Linked DNA regions of Homo sapiens. The protein of the gene in region 2 purifies or fractionates together with the protein of the main gene of each other region. This does not show direct contact. Each region holds a gene or a part of one and is shown on either strand. Other genes may lie near its edges.

What was found. Proteins that work in one complex are often made in the same cells at the same time.
Region 1: the proteins of TBPL1 (region 2) and TAF5 purify together in Homo sapiens (affinity purification with mass spectrometry, with the first as the bait; one large-scale study listed by BioGRID). This does not show direct contact.

The regions. Positions count from the first base shown.
Region 1 is NC_000010.11:103,387,271-103,389,565, forward strand, and holds the end of TAF5 (transcription initiation factor TFIID subunit 5), read left to right. Parts: coding exon 1-82; intron 83-250; coding exon 251-428; intron 429-735; coding exon 736-953; 3' UTR 954-1,795; downstream 1,796-2,295. UniProt on the Homo sapiens protein: The TFIID basal transcription factor complex plays a major role in the initiation of RNA polymerase II (Pol II)-dependent transcription.
Region 2 is NC_000006.12:133,956,224-133,959,723, reverse strand, and holds part of TBPL1 (TATA box-binding protein-like 1), read right to left. Parts: intron 1-3,500. UniProt on the Homo sapiens protein: Part of a specialized transcription system that mediates the transcription of most ribosomal proteins through the 5'-TCT-3' motif which is a core promoter element at these genes. Seems to also mediate the transcription of NF1. Does not bind the TATA box.

The sequences.
Region 1 (2,295 bases), on a different chromosome or scaffold from region 2:
TGCTACGGGCTCTGCAGACAGAACTGTGCGGCTCTGGGACGTCCTGAATGGTAACTGTGTAAGGATCTTCACTGGACACAAGGTATTTTACACTCTTACTATTCCAGCATCCAAGGTTGCTTTCAAAATAAAAATATTTTTTAAACAAGTGACACATAAATTTTAAAGATACCATTCTTACTACAAAACTTTAAAATTTTGTCTTATTTTCCTAGACATACTTTGATCTTTTCTATGAACTTTTTTCTAGGGACCAATTCATTCCTTGACATTTTCTCCCAATGGGAGATTCCTGGCTACAGGAGCAACAGATGGCAGAGTGCTTCTTTGGGATATTGGACATGGTTTGATGGTTGGAGAATTAAAAGGCCACACTGATACAGTCTGTTCACTTAGGTTTAGTAGAGATGGTGAAATTTTGGCATCAGGTAAATGACTATTAATGGCTTTACGATAAATGCTATGTTAAGAGGAAACAGTGTTGACGACTGCAATACTAAGTCCTTATGTTTTAGGTTTTACTTCCCTTTAGCTATGATTCCAGAGTGTCATCCTACATCAATCACTTCTCAGGTTAAAGTACTGCTTGATAATGCTCCTTAGGAAGGAATAGAGTTATTGGTCAAGTTTAGATTTTTCACCCAAAATGTACAGTAAATACATAGTGTAGTGGACAAAATGTCCGAATGTAAATATGATGGATGCAACTAATGGTTTCCTTTGACTTCCCCTTAGGTTCAATGGATAATACAGTTCGATTATGGGATGCTATCAAAGCCTTTGAAGATTTAGAGACCGATGACTTTACTACAGCCACTGGGCATATAAATTTACCTGAGAATTCACAGGAGTTATTGTTGGGAACATATATGACCAAATCAACACCAGTTGTACACCTTCATTTTACTCGAAGAAACCTGGTTCTAGCTGCAGGAGCTTATAGTCCACAATAAACCATCGGTATTAAAGACCTTTTGGAAGCTACTGTTTTTAAAAAGGGAGACTAAAAGCAAATACCTCAGTGATTAATATTTAAGCTACAGAGAATGTTTTTGTCTATATGGATCTGGAAGTATGCTGCTTGGAAAAATCTGAACAGGACAGTTCCACGTTTCTATAGCAACCACATTTGACTAATTTCCGTTAGTTGAATAAGAGGTATTATGATCATGGAGGGGACATTTATGGTGCTTTGGATTGTGTGGAAACTATGCATTTTCTGTTCAAATGCTATTTTAATTTATTACATTTAGAAAAAAAGTTGATTTCAATAATTCATCCTGCTTCAAGATTCAAATTCAGAAATATACTATCATCTTGAATTTTAGCTGAAGAATCCTATGAGCATGTATGTTTCTGCTGTAAAAACGTAGTTACTGTATGGCACTCAAAAACTATGTTAAATGATCCACTAACTTTTTTTTTCTTGGCCCATGATTAATGGAATGTATGTAACTAGGTAGGGTTCCTTTCTTAGATCTAGAGGAAGTACAGCCACCCACTGACATCTGAATTTATATACCTGTTGAGTTTTGAGTGCACCCAAACACTCGATAAACCAGGTGAAGAAATTTAGCTTCCATGTTCTACTTCAGCTAAAACAGCTACATACAACCTAGTACACTTGAAGTCAGACAGACATTTCAGTTGCTTACCTCCAGTACTGAGCCTTGCTTTGGGAAACTAAAAGATTTAGACCAAGTCACTGCCAGTTTTTGCCTTTGTTGCATTTTGTACAGTTTTTATATTTTTGATATCTTGTAAATAAAGACAACCAGCTTTTCCAGGTTCATAATTTATTGTACAAATTGAATTATCACATGATGAGTTGGCATTAGCTTCTCCAGGCATGGGAACTTAACAGATGAGGTTAAGAACCGTAGACAGTTTAAAATCCTATAAACAAAGCAAACAGTTTAGATACAAATGTGGCCAGCTTTACTCTTAAGACACTCAAGAATTACTAAGGTAACATGAACCCACTGAAACTGAATGCGAATTTATTAGATTGTCAAAGATGTAACACCAAAAAAATTAAAGTGTATCTCAGATTAATACTTTTTTTTTTTTGAGACAGAGTTCGCTCTTGTTGCCCAGGCTGGAGTGCAATGGCACAATCTCGGCTCACTGCAACCTCCGCGTCCCAGGTTCAAGTGATTCCCCTGCCTCAGCCTCCCAAGTAGCTGGGATTACAGGCATGTGCCACCACACCCGGCTAATTTTGTATTTTTTAGTAGAGACAGGGTTTCACCATGTTGGTCAGGCTGGTCTCGAACTCCTGACCTCAAGTGATCC
Region 2 (3,500 bases):
ACCACCTGAGGTCAGAAGTTCAAGACCAGCCTGGTCAATGTGGTAAAACCCCATCTCTACTAAAAATACAAAAAAATGGCCAGGTGTGGTGGTGGGTGCCTGTAATCCCAGTTACTCGGGAGGCTGAGGCAGGAGAATTGCTTGAACCCAGAAGATGGAGGTTGCAGTGAGCCGAGATCGCGCCACTGCACTCCAGCCTGGGCGACAGAGTGAGACTCCATCTCCAAAACAAAACAAAAAGAAAGAAAGAAAGAAAGAACACTAGAGAAAAATTAACAATGTGTTAGACAGAACTTTGTCTCAAAACAGGCAAGTTTTATTGTGGACTATAGTACTGATACCATGGCAACCTGTTTTCCTAAAAATTTCCTAACACAGGCCAGGCATGGTGGCTCGTGCCCATTGCCCATAATCCCAGCACTCCGGGAGGCTGAGACAGGCAGATCACTTGAGGTCAGAAGTTCGAGGCTAGCCTGGCCAACATGGGGAAACCCTGCATCTACTAAAAATATAAAAATTAGCTAGGCGTGGTGGCGCATGCCTGTAATCCCAACTACTTGGGTGTCTGAGGCACAAGAATCACTTGAACCTGGGAAGCCGAAGTTGCAATGAGCTGAGATGCCACCACCGCACTCCAGTCTGGGTGACAGAGTGAGACTCTGTCTCAAACAAAAAAAAAATTTCCCAGCACAGTCCTCAGGGTATCTAAAACTAAAGGAAATATATATCTCTATCTATTTGGTGCAACAGTCATGATCATTTCCTCTCTTAAACAGGAAAACAAAAGTCACACCTCTAAATACAAGCATATTTGCCAACCTCCTTAGTGTGTGGAAGCTTATAAAAACCAGCTGAAACAAATAAACAAAACCAGCACAACATGGAAGAAGGAATTATAACACTTTACCCTGCACATTTAAAGCAAAATATGCTTTTAATAATATATTTTATATAAACCTCTATAGTATATATTTTATAAAAATGGATTTCAACTAAAAACTAAGACCTGGTTATTAGCCAGAATAGGAAAGAACAGTCTGCAATTCACTTTGTTTAGGCAGAAACATTTATTTTTAGTCAGCAGTTTCCAATGTCCACACAACTAAACTAAAACATTTGGACTTAACTTTTTAAAGTTAGCTATTATTTCAGCAGCAGCCTAAACAAAACTATAATTATCAAATTATTTTCCTGATTAGGTAGCTTCAGTATTTGTTTTTAGCTTTACCATAAACAAATAATTTTGCTATCCTACGAAGTCATTCTTGAGCCACCTGAATTACTGGGGCAGAGCAGCAATTTTAGCTACTTCTAAAATTACAAAAAAAAGCTACTATTAGAACATTCATAGTGGCACAGAAAGCTCACAACACATGGCTTTACACTGATACTAACAAGCTTCAAGTTTACCATCAACTAAGGTTATACAAGTAAAAAATAGTGCCTTCTAACGAAAGCCTAATTCTGTTAAATGAAACCATTGGGGTTTATTCCTTTTATTCAGAAGTATCATACAGCTAAACAAGTCAAGTCCACAGGGAAATAGTATTTCAATAGCTGCAACATGGTGCCAGCCCAGGCTTTGTCGGCCTTCCTTTTCCAAGAAACAGAGATGTCTCTCTTTACTTAGTCCATCTGCCATCAGTGATAACCAGATGCCTGTGTGACAATTCAAAACTTAAAAAAAGTACTTCCCCCTCCTAAAGCCTAACAGCAGAGATGAGTCCAATAGTCAGTGAACAGAAAGAAAGAAAGAATTTCAATGCTCTAGTAGAAAGCCTCCCAACCAAAGAAACAAAGCATCCAAGTGGTCCAACAGTTCACCTTTAAAATAATATCCAGTGCCACTGCTACTAGCACCTGCTAATACTTTTTAAAGCTTTTAACTAAAGTTCTAAGTGCTTTATGCTAATTCTCACAGCAACCCTGTAACGTAGTAGTAGTATTAACTCCCTAGTACAGATGAGGAAACTGGGGCTCAGGGCAGTGAGAAAGCTATTTAATATTTAAGGCCATGCCATTAATTAAAAGCACAGCCATGATGCTGAACACAGGCTGCCTGCATCCAGAGTCCGTACTCTTTAAGTGTTGTACCAATCCCAATCTCAAGAAAACGTAACTGATTCTGATCAAAACTCTTCTGTCTCACAGTGAAAATACTTGTAATTTATCAGGAGCGGGAACGTTAACACCTGATTCTTTGGAACCATTTTATTAATGGAAACAAATTTTTTTACTGCTTTTAAGTAAGACTTAAGTTCTCACCTAGTGAGTTAAAAAACAAAAACATACCATGGGCCAATGTCTACACACAGATGTCTATCTTGTGCTAAGCACAATTCAATGCTGAAATCATCCACATATGTCCTAAGAAAACTCTGTCCTTAACACACCGTCTGGTTTTCAGTATTTTTTATTAATGGATGGTGAAAGTAACCAACAGCCAAACTTCTGTGCTGTACTTTTTGGTGAAATTTTAAACATTTTCATTATTGACTCCCACACAAAGGCACATCTCCACTACCCCAGAAATCACCCTATTGAGTTTTTTTTTAAAAACATTTAATGGGATCCATAGCATGCTTCAACCCACAAAACCAGCCATTTAAACCAAATTCTCTATTTTATCACCCTTTAGTCACAGACAAGTAGAATTTCTGATGTGACCTGATTCCTTTCCACTAAAGACATACTTCCAGAATCTTGCTTTTTCACAACTACACAAATACACAAACTCCATCTGTCTTCTAAAGAAAAGATTGACTGGTTAATAATACAAAAATCAAATTTGTCTATGTAGCCTGGAAAAACCTCAGATACGTATACAGTCTCTCATCCTTTTGAAATTTCCCAAAGTGGTAGTCATGTGACAAGAGCAAATATCGTGTCTACTCAAGTGAAGGCAGTCCACCATTATCTTTATTGTTTGAATTGGTTAGAAGCTGTAATCATGCTTGAGAAAGTGTCACTGCTTGTAATTTGCATGCCCACAGCCAGAATACAAAGTTGAAATTTTAGGCATCAAGAATCAGATTTCAAAAAGGTTTCCTTCATCCACTAGCTAAGCTCTTGAAGTGAAATAAACAAACATGTATCTCCTTCTATTAACAACGTAATCTTCAAAATACACACACAGGGCAGGGACATACAATATGATGATGGCTACTCATACTCCTGATCCTCAAGAAACTTCTAGTTTAGCAGGCATGATGAAGTCCATTCACCAATAGTGACAGTACCAGGCAGTATGTAATAAAGAATTTAAAATTCATATTTGTGTCTGTCATGTTTTATTACACACATGTCATTTCTCTGCTACCTACAAGTGCACAAAAAGCACCTGAAGGGAAATACCTCTCTCATCCAGCTTTGCACACCTGACACGGCACCAGACATACAGAAGGCACAACAAAATGGATTTAAGTTTCAGGGAATCTTTATTAGTTCGAATGTCACAATACAGCTAAAATTTGAAAACACCAGAGATTTTAACTCAGAGA